Linked DNA regions of Homo sapiens. The protein of the gene in region 3 purifies or fractionates together with the protein of the main gene of each other region. This does not show direct contact. Each region holds a gene or a part of one and is shown on either strand. Other genes may lie near its edges. The genes, in order: METTL2B, RBM12 and NAT16.

The links.
Region 1: the proteins of NAT16 (region 3) and METTL2B purify together in Homo sapiens (affinity purification with mass spectrometry; 2 studies listed by BioGRID and IntAct, with this or other methods). This does not show direct contact.
Region 2: the proteins of NAT16 (region 3) and RBM12 purify together in Homo sapiens (affinity purification with mass spectrometry; 2 studies listed by BioGRID and IntAct, with this or other methods). This does not show direct contact.

Annotation. Positions count from the first base shown.
Region 1 is NC_000007.14:128,472,893-128,479,833, reverse strand, and holds the start of METTL2B (tRNA N(3)-cytidine methyltransferase METTL2B), read right to left. Parts: upstream 3,087-6,941; 5' UTR 3,069-3,086; coding exon 2,959-3,068; intron 2,753-2,958; coding exon 2,661-2,752; intron 677-2,660; coding exon 321-676; intron 1-320. UniProt on the Homo sapiens protein: S-adenosyl-L-methionine-dependent methyltransferase that mediates N(3)-methylcytidine modification of residue 32 of the tRNA anticodon loop of tRNA(Thr)(UGU) and tRNA(Arg)(CCU).
Region 2 is NC_000020.11:35,654,881-35,661,988, forward strand, and holds part of RBM12 (RNA-binding protein 12), read right to left. Parts: intron 4,135-7,108; 5' UTR 4,050-4,134; intron 465-4,049; 5' UTR 443-464; coding exon 1-442.
Region 3 is NC_000007.14:101,170,199-101,177,306, forward strand, and holds the end of NAT16 (probable N-acetyltransferase 16), read right to left. Parts: intron 4,614-7,108; 5' UTR 4,610-4,613; coding exon 4,298-4,609; intron 3,323-4,297; coding exon 3,098-3,322; intron 2,454-3,097; coding exon 1,881-2,453; 3' UTR 298-1,880; downstream 1-297. UniProt on the Homo sapiens protein: Probable N-acetyltransferase. Shows only trace activity toward L-His and no N-acetyltransferase activity toward other amino acids. The physiological substrate of this enzyme is unknown.

The DNA.
Region 1 (6,941 bases), about 27 Mb from region 3:
ATAGCATGATCATGTTGAGCTCTTTCACCTGTATGATACAGTGTCATGTGACAGGTACAGCATGATGCTATTAATACAATTTTTGGAAGTGACATGCTATTCCCGTGTGATCTTTGTCTGTGATGACCACCAGATATCTGGTCTGCACTGAGGGCATTTTATCAGTTCAAAAATGGAGGTGATTCCAGGCTAATATAAGGGTCAAGTCTAGTCAGCATCATCCAATAGAAGTTACTTTTATTGTCAGCCTCTCTATGCTACCTCATGTGCACAAATATAATAGCTTCACATATCCCACTACCAAGACAATAAAAGGTTACCTCCAGTATTCGGTAGGTGGCTGAGGATCCAGGAAACTCATCAGCACAAATTTCCAGGTCACTAATTTTCTGAGTTACATTCTCCTCCACAGGAGGTGTCTGTGTTTTATGTTCAAGGCTCTTCGAAGAACACTTGTGCTGTTCTTCCATTATTAAACCAGGTCCATCCTCATTGTTTCTACATTCACATACTTCACTCTTGTTCTCCAAGAACCAATCCTTCAAATGATTTTGATTTTGGCTAGGTGCCAGCTCAGGGAATTCGGTAAAAAGCCAATGTCTATCCTTGAAAAACCCATTTTCGTGGATTTTGTAGAAGTCATTCCAGTATTTGTGGGCATTGATCTCATAATCAACTGTAAATATTTAAGAAAAAATTTTAAGAACCAGCTCTCAAATATTTTATTTATATCTAACGTCAATTATCCTGCTTTACCAAATGTCACTTTAATACTAAAATTATCCTCAGGTAGAGCCACAGTCCCAGAACTGAAGGCATTTCTGAGGTCATTTAGTCCTGCCATCTGGCATTATACCCAAATGCCCCATCCGTCATTATAGGAGTCTAAATTCTGTTTGAACAATCAACCAGAGAACTTACTATCTATCAAGTGTCCTCCTACATCTTTGGATGACTTTTTTTTCTTTTTGAGACAGAGTCTCGCTCTGTCACCCAGGCTGGAGTGCAGGGGCGCAATCTTGGCTCACCACAAGCTCCACCTCCCGGGTTCATGCCATTCTCCTGCCTCATCCTACTGAGTAGCTGGGACTACAGGCCCACGACCACGCCCGGCTAATTTTTTCTATTTTTTAGTACAGACGGGGTTTCACCGTGTTAGCCAGGCATGGTCTCAATCTCCTGACCTCGTGATCCACCCGCCTCAGCCTCTCAAAGTGCTGGGATTACAGGCATGAGTCATCGCGCCCAGCCAGATGACTTTTAACTATTAAAAAATCCTAGAAGTAGCCAGGTGCAGTGGCGCATGCCTGTAATCCCAGCACTTTGGGAGGCTAAGATGGGCGGATCACGAGGTCAGGAGATTGAGACCATCCTGGCCAGCATGGTGAAACCCCATCTGTACCAAAATACAAAAAATTAGCCAGGCATGGTGGTGCACACCTGTAGTCCCAGCTACTCGGGAGGCTGAGGCAGGGGAATCGCTTCAACCAGGGAGGAGGAGATTGCAGTGAGCTGAGATCGCGCCACTGCACTCCAGCCTGGTGACAGAGCGAGACTCCGCCTCCAAAAAAAAAAAAAAAAGTATGGACAGTTTAAATGAAGGCTGTTTTTAAGGTGATCATGACAGTCCCAGATTTCAGTTTACTGCTCTTGCCAGTTCAGGGGGCCTTGACTAGTGTAGTAGAAAGAATAAAAACCTAACAAATTGAGCAGGACGGTGACAATGGAAGTTGGAATCCACTAAGAAGTGTGTTAACAACTCACAACTCACCTGCTGAATCAACCAAGACTCCCTAAGAAACAGGATTTTAGTTCCACTACTGCTACTACTGACTGCTTACCTCTGGGAAAAGCACTTAATGTCCTGTGGTCCAAGTGTCTTTAACTATAAAAAGAGAATATTGAACCACATGATTTTCAAAATCCCTTTTAACTATTAACTTGCTTTGATCTAGTTGCTGTCAGACTATGCAGGGTGAATGTTTTGTAACTGGAACCTTTTTGTTGTACAGAACTCTTTCAGCAGGTACTAAATTTGTAGTGCTATCTTCAATTGTCTGGAACAATCAGTCCTAGTTTTACTATCTAGGGATATTTTGCAGTGAAATCATCAACCTCTCAAGCAGGGGCCTCCTTTTCTTTGGCCAGACTTATCTCCACTCTGCTGCATCCACCTTTCCTTGACTGAAGCCCTAAATTCTCATAACCATCACACAAGTAATAGACACACAGTCACCAGTCATTAGCCCCCCTCCCAACAATATTTAGAATCTAATCACTTAAATGAAGCTTCAATGGAAACATCTCCTCATGGAAAATGCAAATCATGTAAAAAGTACAGGTTCTAAGATGATCGCGTGACCACACAGTTGTCATTGGCTAGCCATATCAACGTGGATCTACTCAACATAATTAAAGACAAAATTACCCTCCTCCAAAGTAAAACTATATATTAAAAAAACCCTCTACGACTTAAGATTTTGTTACAATGCAGCCCTTTTCCCTCCTTGCTCATCCCCTCCCTGTCCTGCTCTACTCCTGAGATCCGCATCAGGCCAGGAATAAAGGATGTGGGCGGCCGCGGTTCCCTGGCCTCTCCGGGAGGGCGCGTTCGGCAGTACGCTGGCTGTTGATACCAACGAGAGCCCATTTAAGCGCACCTTGTTTCTCCTGGCACACCCGCTGGATACTGTTCTCCTGGACTTTTCTCTCCGCCGCCGCGGCTTGCTCTTCCGACCACTCCACATTGTCCCTGAGAAAATCAAACGGGCAGCTTAGGGGCTTCACGTCCTGGCTGCGAGCAGGGTGAGTCGCTGGCCTAGGAGTTTCTCTCCCCTTGGAGAGTGCCTCGGGTAGGGCAGCTTGACTCGTGGCCGGCGGTCAGGGGCTTTTCGGAATGCTCCGAGGCGGCGGGACAGACGGCCAGCGACAGGCCGGGCGAGGGGGCAGGGTGATTACCAGGCATTGTGGTGGAAGACGCGCGCCGGATCGCTCAGGAACCGGCTTCCGAACTGCTGCCTCTTATCGGCGAGGATTGCAGGTGCACCTTCAGGGTAGGAGCCGGCCATGACACCGGAGCCGGAAACACTTCACTTTCCGTAACGCGAGAACTTCCTGCGGGCCACGCCCTCTTTCAGAAGACGTGGAGTCTGGGCGGGAAAAAGGGTGGCGGGACAGGGCGGTCCTGGAGTCTGGTCCGGGTGGCGCTCGGGAGCTGTCGTTTGGGGCTTTCCCAGGGTTGGCGAAGGGCTCTCTAGGGAAGGGGACCAGGCAGGGGGAAATTCTCCCCGGAGGAGTCGTATCTCATTGATGAGGTGCTGATGGACGTGCAGGTTAGGCAGAAAGTGGGAGACATTCCACTTGAGGCCCAGTTCATTGCTGGGATCCTCTTAACAGGTTCCCCAGCTTCCCTCAAGTTGTAAAACAGGAATAATCTTGAATCATTATAAGAGTTGAGGCTACCTAGTTCCACTGCGGAGCCGATGTCCAGAACTGAAGAAGGTAGCAAGCAGCGGAAAGAAACAGGGCAATTTCCAGCTTCTATAGTCAGCTCTTCATAGTGTGGGTGTATATGTATACACAGTGTGTATATATATTTTGGTTGGGGTGGGGGAGATGGATATATGAAATTAGAGAACACGAGGCTTAGCAAATCAAATGGAATATCCAAGGACAATTTTTTTTTAATTATAACCATCTAACCTTTTTGAATCATCCATATTATATTTATTATAATTATCCTTATTAGCACAATTAAGATTGTAATACACACATACAGTTTGTCATAGTAATACATTTCAGCCTTACATTTCTATTTCTAGATCTAATACAAATAGACTCTCAAAAGAATCTAGAAGAAAGTATGTTATAGACATAAGGTTATTTGAGAAGACTTCCAAGAGAAGCATGATGAATACCACTTGGAAAAGAAGGAAAGGGCAGAGACCAAACAAGGACCAGCCCAATATCTCTTGGACTTTATTTAATGTCATAATGTCAGAATAAAGGGAAAGATGAATTTTTTTAAAAAAGGAAAGGGTTAGTGCAGTGCTAGACATAGCACATTGGTAATTAGTACTTTTTTTTTTTTTTTTTTGAGACGGAGTCTTGCTCTGTTTCCCAGGCTGGAGTGCAGTAGCTGGATCTCAGCTCGTTATAACCTCCATGTCCTGGGCTCAGGTGATTCTCCTGCCTCAGCCTCCTGAGTAGCCGGGATTACAGGTGCGCGCTACCACACTCGGCTAATTTTTGTATTTTTAGTAGAGATGGGGTTTCACCATGTTGCCTGGGCTGGTCCTGAACTCCTGACCTCAAATGATCTGCCCACCTCGGTCTCCCAAAGTGTTGGGATTACAGGTGTGAGCCACCGTGCCCAGCCAGTAATTGTTTATTCCATTGTAAATTCTTTCTGTAGGTAAAACTACAGGGAGCAATGAATGATTCTATACTTTTCCTCCAAAGAAATGGGAACAAGCTCTAAGCCTCTCTAATCAGGAAGAAAAATACACAAGTTAATCAAAAAGATAGTAAAGAAGTTGTACTTCATTTGAAGACAATATGCTTTTGCCATTCTTGTGGTCTTTGGAAACATTTTGAACACAAGCTCCATACCCAGAAACAAGTACAAGGAATTTTTATCTTTTCTCAAGGCCAGCTGTTTGCAGATATGGTGGTTGATTTACATTTATTTCTGGCATCTTGTTTTCTCATCTGTGGGCTTTTATTCTCCCCTCACTAAAAGCTGTTAGTGTTCCCAATCAACAGTCCCACTGGATATTTTCTTGCAGACAGCTCATTGTCTTCACTTGAATTTACTATATTAGTTCCAATGGAGACATTTTAAATGTCAAACAGCTTTGGCCTTTTTTCTATGAAATGTGCTAAAGTATCCTAAACTTAATTTTATTTTTTATTTTTATTTATTTATTTATTTATTTATTTTTGAGACGGAGTCTCGCACTGTCTCCCAGGCTGGAGTGTAGTGGCGTGATCTCGGCTCACTGCAAGCTCCCTACTTCCCGGGTTCACGCCATTCTCCTGCCTCAGCCTCCCGAGTAGCTGGGACTACAGGCACCCGCCACCATGCCCGGCTAATTTTTTGTATTTTTAGTAGAGATGGGTTTTCACCATGTTGGCCAGGATGGTCTCAATCTCCTGACCTCATGATCCGCCCACCTTGGCCTCCCAAAGTGCTGGGATTACAGGAGTGAGCCACCGCGCCCGGCCTAAACTTAATTTTATACAATTATATTTGATTGGCCTGTAAAACCTATTTTTCGAAGCACCTAAAATAATTTTGCATAAGTTTGACATGGCTGTGAGTTCTCTGGTGTCAGACTTTATACTGGATTGTAGCTTCAGAAACGCCACGTTTCAGAGGAACTAAGGGTCCCTCTGGTGGTAAGTAAGGAGAACTCTTATAGCTCAGTGGGTGGCATGGGTTTAATGCTTGTAAAGGTTAAAAACTCTCATTCTGGATTATTGCCTTAGGTTGTTAGCCAAGGACAAGGGTAGTTAATTGTTTTTTTTGTTTTTTTTTTGTTTTTTGGTTTTTGTTTTTTGAGACGAAGTCTTGCTCTGTCGCCCAGGCTGGAGTGCAGTGGCATGATCTCGGTTCACTGCAAGCTCCACCTCCCGGGCTCAAGCCAGTCTCCTGCTTCAGCCTCCAGAGTAGCTGAGATTACAGGCCACCGCCACCACACCCGACTAATTTTTGTATTTTAGTAGAGACGGGTTTCACAATGTTGGCCAGGCTGGTCTTGAACTCCTGACCTCAAATGATCCGCCTGCCTCAGCCTCCCAAAGTGCTGGGATTACAGGCATTAGCCACCCCACCCGGCCTTTCTTCTCCTTTTTTTCTTTGAGATAGGGCATCACTCTGTCACGCAGGCTGGAGTACAGTGGCACGATCACAGCTCACTGCAACCTCTGCCTCCCAGGCTCAAGTGATTCTCCCACATCAGCCAACAGAGAAGCTGGGACTAGAGGTTTGTGCCACCATACCCGGATAATTTTTGCATTTTTTGTGGAGACAGTGTTTTGCCATGTTGCCCAGGCTGGCCTCGAACTCCTGGTCTTGAGCAATCCTTCTGCCTCGGCCTCCCCAAGTGCTGGGATTACAGACATGAGCCACTGCACCTGGCCTGTGTTTTCTTATTGCAAAATAAATTTTTTATTATAGAACGTTTAGAAGATATCGATAAAACAAAAGAAAATACTTCTTCCCACCATTAATTTGACTCATTAATGCTTTGGCTTATATCATCCTAGTGCTTTCTAATTTAGTTATGTAAGTGACTTTACATTAAAATAGTTTCAGAACAAAATGCTTTGTGCTTTTTTTTTTAAACAATTACATTCATCTGGCCGGGCACGGTGGCTCACACCTGTAATCCCAGCACTTTGGGAGACCAAGGCGGGTGGATCACGAGGTCAGGAGTTCGAGACCAGCCAGACCAAGATGGTGAAACCCCCATCTCTACTAAAAATACAAAAATTAGGCTGGGTGTGGTGGCTCACGCCTGTAATCCCAGCACTTTGGGAGGCCGAGGTGGGCGGATCACGAGGTCAGGAGATCGAGACCATCCTGGCCAACATGGTGAAACCCCATCTCTACTAAAATACAAAAAATTAGCCAGGCGTGGTGGCACGCGCCTGTAGTCCCAGCTACTTAGGAGGCTGAGGCAGGAGAATCACTTGAACCTGGGTGTTGGAGGTTGTAGTGAGCCGAGACTGTGTCACTGCACTTCAGCTTGGGCGACAGAGCGAGACTCCTCACACACACACACACAAATAATAAATAAATAAATGATAAATAAATAAAATTAGCCGGGCACGGTGGTGGGTGCCTGTAATCCCAGCTACTCGGGAGGCTGAGGCAGGAGAATCGCTTGAACTCAGGAGTCGGAGGTTGCAGTGGGCTTAGATCGTGCCACTGCAGG
Region 2 (7,108 bases), on a different chromosome or scaffold from region 3:
GTATGTTTTTGTTGCTTTCATGAACAGAAGTGGTGGCAGTAACTACACTGGGTGATGGATTATTAAAGTTGGATACTGTTGTGGGCAAGTTTACCCTGCTACTCATTCCTGAGCTAGGTGGTGGTCCTGATCTACTGGCATTTGCTGGTGGTATATCTAAGTTGGCAGTTTCAAAACGCCTACGACTCAGTTCAATCATATTCTGCATTTCCGTCTTACTACTCAACAATAGTGTTACTTTTGACCCTTTAATTGTACCACCTGTGCGCATCATACCAAGCCTTGCATCTTCATCAGTGGCAAAAACGATGAAAGCCTCACCCAGTTCACCCCCTACAATATGCACGCCCCCATCAGGAATGGTCAATCCAGAGAAGAAGTGGCGAATGTCCATGGTCCCCGCCACAATTGGGAGACCTTGCAAACGGATGACCACAGCCATGCTGCGCTGAAACCACACACACCTGCAGATGAGAAAAGGCAACGGCCAGGTCAGACTCCTGTTTATCACACCAAGTTTTTAGCTACAAGAATGACCAGCTACCATATTAGGCCCTCAAATATTCCCTCAAGCTATCACAGGCAATGTCTTTAATTTAGATATTCTAAAAACTGAACATTACGTGCCATTTACAATGTAAAACGTAGACAATTTCAACTTCCAGAAGGCATTAATTTTGGAAACAGTTCAGTCCCAAGACTCAAAAAGTTCAAGAAAAAACAACTGTAGGACAGTAAAATACATATACATCATTCAGACCACTAATCATTCAGTAAGATTTAAAAGAAATGTCTAAGTCAAATCAGGAAACAAAGTTTAACAATCTATAGGGAAAAAACATGCAAAGAATATATAGAAGTTAGTATTTAAAACTGGCTTAGCATCTTCCCTATATACTTGATAATTTCATAGAATTATCAAGAGTGTGATTTTATAGAGCTCAGTCTCAAAATCCATCCAACAGAAGCAAAAAACTAGAATACTAATGAATTGTAAATAATACTTAAGACTAAAAGTAGATTCAAGTCTTAAATGAGAACTGGTTCCATTATTTTATTCATCCTAAAACTTTTCAATCTGCCTTGTACATTACAAAAAACTACATATGGAATTATTTATTATAAACAAGGTTAAGACATACTAAGAAGCCAAAAGAACTACTGAATAGGACAGCTAAAATCTGAGTTACCTTGATTCATTACCCCCAAAAGTAGAACCTGGTTATAGTCCCATTCACTGTGACTATTTTAATTAAAACTCAGGTCCAATGACTCATAACCAAATCCTCTATTTAATAAAATTTTTTAAAGTATTATTTTCCCCTAGGAGAGGGCTGACAATAAAAATATTTTTTGTTTTTGTTTTAGAACCAGAGTGTGAATTACTCAGTGGTTGTTACAGTCTTGGACCTACACAACTCCTACAGGATCTCTGTGATCTCCTTAGATCATGCCTGTTTTGACATAATCAAAAAAGAAATGTTCCCCTCAAATTTCAGTATTTCAGTTCCAAAGGCTTCTAAGAGCAAATTCAAGGGCAGCCCTTTGGAAAGTGACACAAACCGAATTATTGGGCCTGGGAAACATACTACTTTGAAATTAAGGTGGTCAATAACATAGGGTGTTTTCCAACCCATCTGAAAAGTCAACTTTTATTTATTTATTTATTTTGAGACAGAGTTTCACTCTTGTAGCCCAGGCTGCAGTGCAACGGCACGATCTCGGTTCACGGCAACCTCCACCTCCCAGGTTCAAGTAATTCTCCTGCCTCAGCCTCCCAAGTAGCTGGGATTACAGGCATGCGCCACCATGCCTGGCTAAGTGTTTGTATTTAGGAGAGATGGGATTTCACCTGACCTCAGGTGATCCACCCTCCTCAGTCTTCCAAAGTGCTGGGATTACAGGCGTGAGCCACTGCGCCCCACCTGAAAAGTCAACTTTTAAATATAAGCCCATAAAATCAGCTCATGACCCTCAGAAAGGTTATAAATTAATGAAGAGATTTGGTTTTATCACTTCTCAAGAATATTAGAAGGGGCAAGATTTTCTACTATAAGCTCTAAGAATTCTGTAACTTCATTGTCAAATATTATATAAATACTAATGCAACAAAATCTGTAATTATATCTCAATATTACAACTGCCGTATACAAACAAGAAACAAACTGCTTGGCTTTGACAGTTTTCTCACAGACACATACACAAAAATAAAAAGCCACCTTCAAATTTAATCCAGAAAAATGGACTAGCAAACAGAAAATGCTTTTTGTGAGGCCATTATAAAGCACTAGAAATTTGGGAAGTGTGGGGAAGCTTTTCATTTACAAACTTCAAGAGTCAACAAGAAAAATTAACGCTAAAAAACATCACACCAACAGTCTCTTTTCTCATTTACTATTTAGCAGCCTATAAGGAGGTTCATCAAGCAGTTTCCAAGTCATTAAATCAAATTCACATTCCTTGCTCAATCTAGAATATGTGGCTGTATGCAAAATGTGATAGCATTTCCTGTTCAACTTCAAAAAACGGTTAATCACTTTGTATAGGGGAAACATCATGGGCAATCCAGGTACTCAAAACAACTTGAGAGAGAGAGAGAGACTAGTTTGCACTGGGACAATCAAACAGAAACTTGATATAGTCCCAAGAACACAAAAATTAAACACAGGGCTAAAGTGACATACACAGTTAAGTCTTCAAGCCATTTTCTGTTAAGAGCAGGGATTTACTGAAAGTTTGTACAAGGTACACATGAGAATATGCTATTGAAAATCTGCCTCAGATTACCAGCTGGAAAGGGCTGAATATTAAACCAAAGTGGAATACAAGATTTATTCATAAAGCCATCTGATGAGAAAAATTGTTTCTAGCTTCCAAAAAATATGAAATAATATCCGCAGCCAGGTGCGGTGGCTCACACCTGTAACCCCAGCACTTTGGGAGGATGAGGTGGGTGGATCACCCGAGGTCAGGAGTTCAAGACCAGCCTGGCCAACAAGGTGAAACCCCGTCTCTACTAAAAACACAAAAAATTAGCTGGGCATGGTGGCAGGTGCCTGTAATCCCAGCTACTAGGGAGGCTGAGGCAGAAGAATCACTTGAACCCGGGAGGCAGAGATCACGCCACTGCACTCCAGCCTGGGCAACAAGAGCGAAACTCTGTCTCAAAAAGAAATAAATAAATAAAACAAATAAAAATTTAAAAAAAAATTTAAAAAAGTATCTGCTTTTCTGTTACTAAGTAACTGTTTGACAGCTAAGTCATTTCAACCTAACTTGGGCCTATCTTAGTTACTTAAACAAGAGGGTTAGATTCCACTTGCTAAGGTTCCATTTAAAGTCTAAAATTTGTACTCTAAAACATGTGACCCATTATCTATACTTAAACTCTTAGGAAATATAAATAAACATATCAATAACAAGCATCTGTATTTGTAATTAGTCTAAAATGCTACTAAGGAATAAAACTTACTGCCTATCAGGAAAATCACAAGATAAATAGATCCATATAAATGAAATTGACCCCCAAAGGAACAACTGTTCAAAGCACCCATCTACCCCACCCCTATCCCTCAGATAAACTTGTAAAAAACCACACCGGCCTGGGTGGCGGCTCATGCCTGTAATCCCAGCACTTTGGGAGGCTAAGGCAGGTGGATCACAAGGTCAGGAGTTCAAGACCAGCCTGGCCAAGAGGATAAAACCCCATCTCTACTAAAAATACAAAAAAATTAGCCGGGTATGGTGGCAGGCGCCTGTAATCCCAGCTATTCGGGAGGCTGAGGCAGAGAAGTGCTTGAACCCGGGAGGCGGAGGTTGCAGTGAGCCGAGATGGCACCACTGCACTCCAGCCTGGGCAACAGAGTCTAGCCTGGGCAACTGAGCAAGACTCCGTCTCAAAACAAAAAACAAGCAAACAAAAACACACACACACACACACACACACACACACACACACAATATAGTTGCTACATATATTTTCATATTTCTTAATAAGCTATCTCATTTTATTTTGTATAAAAACGAACTCTCTATTCAAAATCTCTTACCTGATAAAACAAGAGATGAATTTCCTTAACAAGAAGTAGAGGCCAAGTCAATCCTGTGGGCAACCAATTAAAACCAACTTTTAGACTGCAATAGAGAATAAACGGAGGCAAAAATCAATGCAGGAAACACAAAACAACACGCACAGGCCACACTGTACATTACGAAGGCGAGTCTGAAACCACCAGAGTACTTCATTAGAATGCATATCAAAAAAAAAAAAAAAAAGAAAGACACCGTAACAAAATCCCACACATGCTTTTTAGTTGGTATTGCTTTCAAATTTGAGTATCTCAAAATAATTATATATTTACAAGAGTGTCATTAACTTAGCCCAATAACGAATCCACTGAAAATTAAAACAGTCATAAAGCTCAGCTTCACAGCTAATTGCTTTGATCACTTTATAATTAAACCAGTCCAGAAAACTCCGTAACACAAGTCTATTTCCCCAGGTTCTCACCAAATTTGTGATGAAAAGGCACAAGTTCGCACAATAACAATTCTTGGACAACTTAAGATAGCAATTCAAGGGTACTCATGGAAATTACTGCAATTATTCTTTCAATATATTTTATTTTGCACAAAATAGCATCCAACATCACAAAACAAATGAAGTATGAGTTCTTGCTATAAGGACTAATTCCACTGGAGCTCAAAATATTAACAAAATATTAAGGGAAAGTGTTTTTTCCTCTGACATCACAACAGTTCTCAAAAACTTGTAAAATTTAAATAAATAAAATAAAATAAAATTTAAAAACACCCTAAAAATGCCTGACATATTAAGAGTATATCCCAAAATAAAAACAGGTCACTCATCTTTCACTGTCATTTCTTCCAAACTGGTGAGGTTATTAACAAGTCACAAGCATATATGACCAAATGTCTAGACAACTATATTCAAAGGTCATTTTTTGCTTTTTATTTTTTTTCAAAGGTCATGTTTTAATTCGGAGAGAGAAGAAATTTGCCACTGTTCAGTATTAAGATTACCTACGACTACTTTTCCAAATGATGCTCATCTTAAATTAGTATCTTCCAAGACCAAAATACAACTAATGACCTTAATATTCATCGCCAAAAAGTAAAACATATTTCAAAAATCTGTGTGATTTTCTAAAGGACAAACTATTCATCGTCTAGTCAACTACTCAAGTTGCTAAAGAATAGTGAGATGGTTTTACCACAAAAAGCTATGCAAATATGTAATCAACACAATCAAAAGTCTAGAGCATTGTATTAATCTTTTACATGTTGTAGAAATCTAGCCTCTTTTTTTTTTCTTTTTTTGAGACAGGGTATCGCTCTGTCGCCCAGGCTAGAGTGCAGTGGCGCGATCTAGGCTCATTAGGCTCATTGCAACCTCCGCCTCCCTGGGTTCAAGCTATTCTCATGCCTCAGCCTCTGGAGTAGCTGGGACTGACTACAGGCTTGCGCCACCACCCGCAGCTTATTTTTGTATTTTTAGTAGAGACAGGGGTTTCATTATGTTACCCAGGCTGGTCTCTTAACTCCTCACCTCAAGTGATCCACCCGCCTCAGCCTCCCAAAGTGCTGAGATTACAGGTGTGAGCCACCACGCCTGGCCTAGCCTAACTAAGTCTAAGGAGTTTAAAAATTCTTCATTTGAAAGCCATATCTAGTAGTTTAACAGGTCACAAAGGAAAATGTGAAACAGAAAAAAACCTGCTTCAAGTAAAGCAATGAGCAAGAGCATGAAGTACTGTAATATTTATGTACAGGTTTGACTCCAGCAGCCACATAACAGGGTAACTTTCTAGTTTCTAGAACTTGTAATAAACATCTGATCCCTACTGGAGATTCCAATTCAAAAGGTCAGGTATGGGGCCAGGGCATATGCCTGAATATAAGGTAAGAAGGTTCCTCTCAGCCTCTTCCCTTGCAAACTCAAAAGATACCGTATGTCTATCTTGAGAAGGACATATCTGGGGTCAGCCAGTTAAGCTCAAAGGGAACTCACCAGGTCTACTCTCAAAAATTTCTAAAAGGTTACCAGAAATTACCTTTAAAAGGAAGATATTTCTCATTCCACAAGGCAAGGCTGAAAGGCCCAGCTGAATTTGACAAATGCCTAGTTCAAGTTTTATGTGTACAACTTAAAGCACAAAATCAATCCAGATAGAAATTTATGATTCTCTTCTATTTCAGCAAAGAGGAATACCCACCCCACCCCATACCAAGGAAAACCATGCAGAAAGTTGATGCTACAAGTCAGAACTTCACAACCCTTGGTATTATACCTCTTCAAAAGGGAAAGGTAAATGGAAATAGAACTGAAATACTTCTGTGTTGACACCTCACTTTGTAAAAACCACAAGAATTTAACATAAGTGTCACTGTTTTCCAGGAAACTACTATTCCTGTATTCTAAATGTCAGCTAGCGACTGAATGCAGGATTTCAAAAATCCACGCCATTTACCTAAAGCTTTGCTGAACTTTAGAAGGATAAGACTAAAATAATAACTAAACAATAAAACATCTAAAATACATATTCTATCTATACATACAGCATAATGATAGGAAAGGAGAAAATGGGCCTGATTTGTCATTAAAGCCACTGATATACTTCAGAAGATCTAAAACAAGAAGCTGGCTTTAGTATGTTTTCCATTCATATTATCAGGAATTAGTCCTAACATAAAGGCTTGCTTCAACTTGACAAAATACCGGATGCATGCACAAATCACAAGTATCTGCTACAAAAATTTAACATATTATGGCAAGACAGACTTTCGTATTTACTAGCCATTCTAATCACTTGGAATTTCAGAAAAAAATGTCTGACAACAAATCTCTTCATCAAGAAGTCAAGGCACAAACTAAAACGACTATTTTCACTCTTCATCTGGTAGTAAACATCCAAAAGTGAACTTTAACTTTGTTCAGTTATCACTCTTTAATCAACAAGAACCAGGGTACAGCAGAGCTAGGTTCTTCAGATCCAAAAGAAACAAACTCTCAAATGTTCACCTCAGAGATTAGCAACAGAGAACCAATCACAACGGGCACAATGCTAAAAACAGTATAATCACATTA
Region 3 (7,108 bases):
GTAGCAGCCGACTCCCAGGTCCAGGGAAAAGCGAGGCCCAGGGCGAGTCAGGAGGCCGTGCTGCTGCCCACCTCGGTCCTGAGCAGCGGCTTCTTTCCTCCGCTTGGCAGGGGTGGGGTAGGGGCGCACAGCCAGCAGCCCTCCTCAGAACCCCTCTCCACCTCCCCCCTCTCCCCGGGAAGTCATTAGCCCCATTGCCACAGGGCTTAGAGATCCTCTCTGATACAGGCTGCTGGGGAAAGGGGAAGATAATGTGTCTCATTTCTCCCCATTGGGAAGTGAAACAGACACAGAGGGTGGCCAAAAGGTCCATTTTATTGTCATACAATCGTGGTCACCGTGACAAGGAGGGTGGCAGCGTGGCCAGGCACAGGATGCACCCAAGGAGAGCAGCACAGTAGCAAAACCAGAGCTGCGGAAAGTGGCGAAGCGGCGGCTGCCCCTACCCCCCACCTTGTCCACATTCTTCCACCTGCTGGTGTCCACCTCTGCCCACATCTCGGATCCCATCCCAGCGAACCCCAAACTCACTGTCAACATTCTCCTAGCACCTACGCATTGCCCAACAAGAAGTTCAAGCTAACATCATCCCACAGAGTGAAGTTCTAGGTCATGCTCTAGGCTTGGGACACCCGGGTTCTATTCGCTGGGAGGCTCCTAGCTACTTTGAATGACTTAGAAGTCACTTTGATCTTTCCCAGCCTTCTGTTTTCTCCCTCTGCCTTTGATGTGGGGAACCAGTATTGGAGACAGCGCTGTGCAGATGCAGCTGTTACTACTTGCAATTAAATAGAAGACTCTCAAAGTTCTAAAAGCATAAATGATCCAGAGAAAGGGAGTGGTGTCCAGAAATACCAGGAGGTGGGAATTCCAGTTGCACTAGAAGGCGGCCTGGTTGGAACCAGGAGACAGCCCCTATGCCAGGCTGAGGGACCCGCCCTCCACTGTACCAAACTCTTCAGCTAGAACCACACCACACACACACCACCACCACCACCACCACCCCGCCCGGCTCGGGTGAGCTGGGGCACGGGGGAGCCTGCGAAATAGCAAAGTTGTGCAAAGCAGGAGGAAACCCCAGTGAGAGAGGCAGGCTCAGAAAGTGCATCACCAGATGAACAAGGACCCAAATGGGGGAGCATTCTAAATACATTTCATTTTACAGTATCACTCTCTCTCTCTCTGGATTGCACACTGGGCTGGTGATGGGAAGGAAAACAGGGACAGAAAAATGGGCACTGCGGTGTTAAGCGTCGTAGAGATCCAGCGAGGATGAGGATGAGGGGCTAGAGAGAAGTGGGGAGAGGGCACTGATCTCTGGCACCAGAAGCTTGAGCAGGGGGAGGGGATTGGGGTGTGGAGGGCAATGCAGGACCAGTTTTTAGGGCTTTAGAAAGGGCAGAAGGAAGAAAAGAAACGCGGATTGGGCGGCTGCGCTCGGGAACGAGGCTGGGCATCCCACACACTCCTGAGTTCTTCCACCCACGAGGGGGCAGAAGGGAGAAGCCAGGAAAGGGGGAGTTCACGCCCCGGGTGAGGTGATGGAGAGGGAAGGAAGGACTCTGAAGCCTGTGCGGGGACCAGTTCTTTGGAAAAACAGAGGGTGGATAACAGCAGCTCAAGGCCCCCACCCCCAGCCCCCACCTAATAGTCCGCAAGTTCAGGTCAGGGAGTGGGCAATGGTGTTTGGGGGAGCTAGAGGCAAGATAGTAAGGGCAAAAGGGACAGAGTGGGGGGACCTGCGCCGGTAAGGGCAGGAGGGCAGGAGTCAGAGGGGACTTCCCAGGAGACGCAGCGTCGGAAATGGCAGGAAAGAGGCTGGCTGGGGAAACTGCGGAAGGGGGCGGGTCTTTTTCCCCCTCCCCGCCAGAGGAGAGGCCTCAGATGTCGGCCTCCAGCAGGTACTGTTCAGTATAACCCTTCACCAGCTCCAGTCCCAGCCCGACCTGGCAGAAGTCAGCCAGCTGTGACCACAGCTGGGGCTCCAGGAAGAGCTGGCACATGACGTTGAGGCCAACGAGGCGCGGGGCCTGGCGCTGCAGGTGCCACAGCAGCTGGCTCTGCACCTGCGCGCCGTCGCTACCGAAGGCGTCGATGTTGAGATAGCGCCAAGTGCCGTCCCCTCCGTGCGGGATGGGGAAGGGGCGCGTGCACAGCGTGAGCACGCGCGGGCGCGCGCGGCTGTCCACGCGCCACTCCAGGCCCTTGGCCGCCAGCAGGCGCAGGTTGCTTTCGCTAGGCCGGTAGGGCTGCCAGTCCTGGATGATGGTCCCGCCTGGAAGCACGTCGCGCTGCACGGAGGGTGACAGCAGGAGGCGTGCCACGTCGCCGCCTGCCTCGGACACGGCCTCGGTGGGCAGCGGCGAGAAGGTGCCAGAGGTCCGCAGCGCCGCCAGCCGCGCGCCCAGCCCGGCCAGCAGCGCGGACGCGTTGAATCGGACCAAAAGGATGCCCTGCGGGGGGCACGAGTGAGCGCGGGGAGGGGGGGCGCAGCAGGGCTGGCGAGCCCGGCGCCTCTCGGCAGGCATCTTCACTCCCACGTTCACGCCCACGGGCTCCCACCTGGGTCCCTCTGGAGGAGCGACCGTGAGGGCTCCGGGCCGAGTGGGGTATGGGAAAGCCTGGGTTTCAAGGGTACCAGACAGGGACCAGGGGCACGGGCTCCCAGTACGTGGATCCCCAAGAAGAGGTGGGATCAGTATGGAGTAGCCAGGGAACTGAGGGTACGGGTCCCCGGGTCTCCAGGGACGTGAAAGCCAGGGAGGCCGATCAGTCAGTAGGATTGGGAGGAGCAGAGGGAGGACAAAGGCTCAGAGGAGATGGCTTGGGGCCCTGAACAGAGGCAGGATCCTAGGGGAGGCAGGGTCCCCGAAGTTGGGAAGTAAGGACTAGGGTTTCAGGCTGGGAGTCGGGAGTTTGACTTCCCCTGGGTCAAAGGGTCTGGTAAGGACTGGGAGTCCCAGGGCAAGGCTCATGGGCCGCGCCACTCGGTAAAGCCCAGAGAGAGAGCAAGCCCGTGTTCTGCTGGGGGTGGGGAGGGTCTCCCCATATGCCCCAGCAGAGAGGCCCAGCCATCCGAGCTCCCTGTCCTTCTCACCTGCTTGGTGATTAGGCGGTATTTCTTCAGCTCCCGGGGGCCCAGCTGGTCGTCCCGGGTGAGCCGTGCCACCTTGACCCCCGGGTGCTGTCTCTTGACCAGCTGCGAGCAGAAGCGCTGCAGCAGCCCGGCCACGCCCTTCCCGCGCTCCCAGGGCGCCACGCGCAGCCCCTCCACCAGCACCGTCTCCCCGGCGTCGATCACGTTCACCGACTCCAGCGCGATCTGCGGACCGAGGCCGTTAGCGCGGGGCCCTCCCCGCCTGCGCCCCTGCCAGGGCTGTCGGTTCACTGGGCTCTCCTCTTCCCACACGCTGAGCACTCCGCGTCACCACCCGGGCACCAGGCCAGGCCTGGGGTAGCACGGCACTTGGGCCTCAGATTACAGAGCCGGCAGAACAGTCATTCGCCGGGGCTTCGTCCACCTTTTTATTTTTATTTATTTTAAATTTAGGACAGGGTCTCCTCACCCAGGCTGGAGCGCAGTGGTGCTATCACAGCTCACTGCAGCCTCAAACTCCTGGGCTCAAGCGATCCCCTACACCCCCAAGACTTCCTAGTAGCTGGGACAACAGGCACGCACCCCTACTCTCGGCTTTTTATTTATTTTTATTTTTTGGAGACAGGGGTCTCGCATGTTGCCCAGGCTGGTCTGGAACTCCTAGCCTCAAGTGATCCTCCTGCCTCGGCCTCCCAAAGAGCTGGGGTTACAGGAGTTAGCCGACGCGCCCGGCCCCTTCCACCTCTTGAGATGCTCCAGCTCCGAGTGTGTCAAGTTCCGGACCGCTCACCACGCCCCTTCCTTGGCTCCTCCCCCGGGAGTTTGCCACGCCCCACTTCCTCTTAGCTCCTCCCCCAGCCCAAATCTAAGCTCTTCCTGCTCCCACCCCTAGCCTACCCTCTCTCTCCTGCTCCCCACCTCCTTTGCTTTTACCCCCAGAAATTCCTCCGGTGGATCCTCGAACTTTCAAACGCTCACCTGTCCCTCTGGTTCCTCTGCTTTAGGAGTCCTCCACCCCACCCTCACTGACATAGCCCCTGGATCCGCACTGCACGCCCTGCACTTTGGTCCCAAAGCAGGCTCTATTTCCGCAGCCTCCAGAGGAAGGCTGGGGAGAAGCTCTCATCCTCCTCTTCCTAAGATCCACGCACCCGCAGGTGGCTTCACCCCATGTCACCTGGGCCGTGCCCCCGGGCTCACCACGCCTCCGTTGCGCTTGGCCAGCACCACCGTGCGGTCGGGGTCCCGGAGCCAGCTGTGGTAGCGGCTAGGAAGGTAGTCCAGGCCGCCGTAGATGCCCCCCGAGATGGCCAGCACTTCCTCAAACTCCCGTTCCGTGGCCACCACGAAGTCCAATGGCTCGGCCTCAGCCTCAGGCCCCGATCCCGACCTGGGCTCGGCCTCCACCTCCTGTGGCCGGGTTTCAGAGCTTGGCTCTGCATCTCGGGCAGTCTTCTTTTCCGGCTTAGGGACCTCTGAGGTGGCTGTGCCACAGCTGGCTTCCAGCTTCATGACCCTGCAGAAAAAAAGAGAATTCAGCACCTGGATCAGCCCCTTTGTTTCCACATCTGGGCCCCTGCACACAAACGGTCCTAATGCCCCTTCCTACACAAATAGCCTTTCTTTTTCTTTTCTTTTATTTATTTACTTATTTACTTATTTATTTATTTATTTTTTGAGACGGAGTCTCGTTCTGCCGCCCAGGCTGGAGTGCAGTGGCGCGATCTCGGCTCGCTGCAACCTCTGCCTCCCCGCTTCAAACTATTCTCCTGCCTTCACCTCCTGAGTTGCTGGGACTACAGGTACGTGCCACCATGCCTGGCTAATTTTTGTATTTTTAGTAGAGACGGAGCTTCACCATGTTGTCCAGGCTGATCTTGAATTCCTGACTTCAGGCGATCCTCCTACCTCAGCTTCCCAAAGTGCTGGGATTACAGGTGTGAGCCACCACATTGGCCCCTTTCTTCATTTCTTCTTCTTATTTTTTTTTTAATACAGATAGGGATCTCACTACTTTGCCCAGGCTGGTCTCGAACTCCTGGGTTCGAGATCCTCCTACCTTGGACTCCCAAAGTGCTGGGATTACAGGTGTGAGCCACTCTACCTGGCCCACACCCTTTCTTTTCTGCTGTCCACACAGACCCTGGGAGTGGAGGTCTCCCAGCTCCCTCCCTCTTCCCACCAGCTTTCAGAAATCTCAGCTCTACCCACCCCACTCTTATGGGATGCTCCCTAACAGTCAGAAACTTAGAACCCTGTGAGATCCCCATAGACCAGCCCCAGATCCAGGGACCCAGGCAAAAGAAAAAAGGCACTTGGGGGTAGTTTTAAAAAAAAAAAAGAAGAAGAAGGCTGGACACGGAAACTCATGCCTGTACTCCCAGCACTTTGGGAGGCCAAGGCAGGTGGACTGGTTGAGTCATGGAGTTTAAGAACAGCCTGGGCAATATAGTGAGACTCTGTCTATAAAAAAAATTAGCCAGGCATGGTGGTGCAGTGGGCCTGTAGTCCCAGCTGCTCTGAGGCTGAAGTGGGAGGATCGTTTGAGCCAAGGAGACAAAGGTTGCAGTGAGCCGGGATCACACCACCGCACTCCAGCCTGTGTGACAGAGAGAGAACCTGTGTCAAAAAAAAAAAAAAAGAGGCACACTCCTTCAAGGATCCCATCACCTCTCTAAGACCTCTGCAAGGACAACATGAGAAAGAAACTCCCACTGTCACCCCTCTGTCCACAAGAAAGTTCCCAGAGAACAGTGGAGGGCTCACCCTCACCCCATTTCCTGCCACTACCAGCTACAATCCCAGCCAGGGCCAAGGGGGAGGGTGTAGACCCCAAATATCCTCCATATTGCTGCCCCAGTTCCCTGTCCCCCCACCTCCACCTCTTGACATACACATTCAAATATAAACAAGATAGATAGCTCCACTAGAAAATGTCAAGCCAGCCTAGCATGGCGGCTCAGCCGAGGCGGGTAGATCACCTGAGGTCAGGAGTTCGAGACCAGCCTGGCCAGCGTGATGAAACCCCATCTCTACCAAAAATACAAAAATTAGCCAAGCATGGTGGTGGACACCTGTAATCCCAGCTACTAGGGAGGCTGAGGCACAAAAGTCACTTGAACCCGGGAGGTAGAGGTTGTAGTGAGCCTGAGCCGAGGTTGAGCCACTGCACTCCAGCCTGGGCAACAGAGTGAGACTCTGTCTCAAGAAAAAAAAAAAAAAAGAAGAAGAAAATGTCAAACCATTCTTTCTAAGCCAATCAATGCCCCCCGCCCCCGCCCCTTTCCTTCCTTCTGCCCCTCTTCCCCATAGGGAGACTTGGGCTCTGTCCACTCCAGGACTAGGAATTGTTTGAAAAGTGTTCTGTCGGAGCTCCACCAAAATGAAAGAGAAAGCCCCCTATCCAAGTCCCAGCAACTTCTATTTCTGGGCCTGTCTCTTCCAGATCAGCCAAATCAACCAATCAAATCCCCCCTCTCTCTTTCAGCCAATGATAATGCTCACCTCAGATAACCTACGTTAAGCCTCATTAACCAACATCCCAAGGGCACACAGACCAGCTATTCTGTGGGGGTGATATTGACTTATTGACTTAACTGGAATTTTTATTTTTTTTTTTAACAAAAGTCTTACCTAGGTTTGGGGAAGGTTGACCAGCAGTGGGACCAAGGAGTGGTTTGCACTTCCAAGCCATAAACAGAGCTTGCCTAAACGCGGTATGCTTGCTATACAAACCAAGCTTCAAGACAAGAGTTCTATCTCCCTCTTTGTTTTCTGATTCTTTCTCATCTGATTCCAACACCTGGAGATTACCTGGATATGGAGCCAGAATTATCAGAGAGGAGGAAGCCAGGCTCAGAGGATTTAGATCCTCTGCTGGGGCCATTAGAGACCATCAGGTTCAACCCATTCATTTCATAATCAAGGAGATTAAGAGCCTTGCCCGAGGTGACTCAGTCTGGGCAGAGCCAGGCTAAAAGTTAAGTTTCCTTGGCTTCCAGGCCAGGGGGG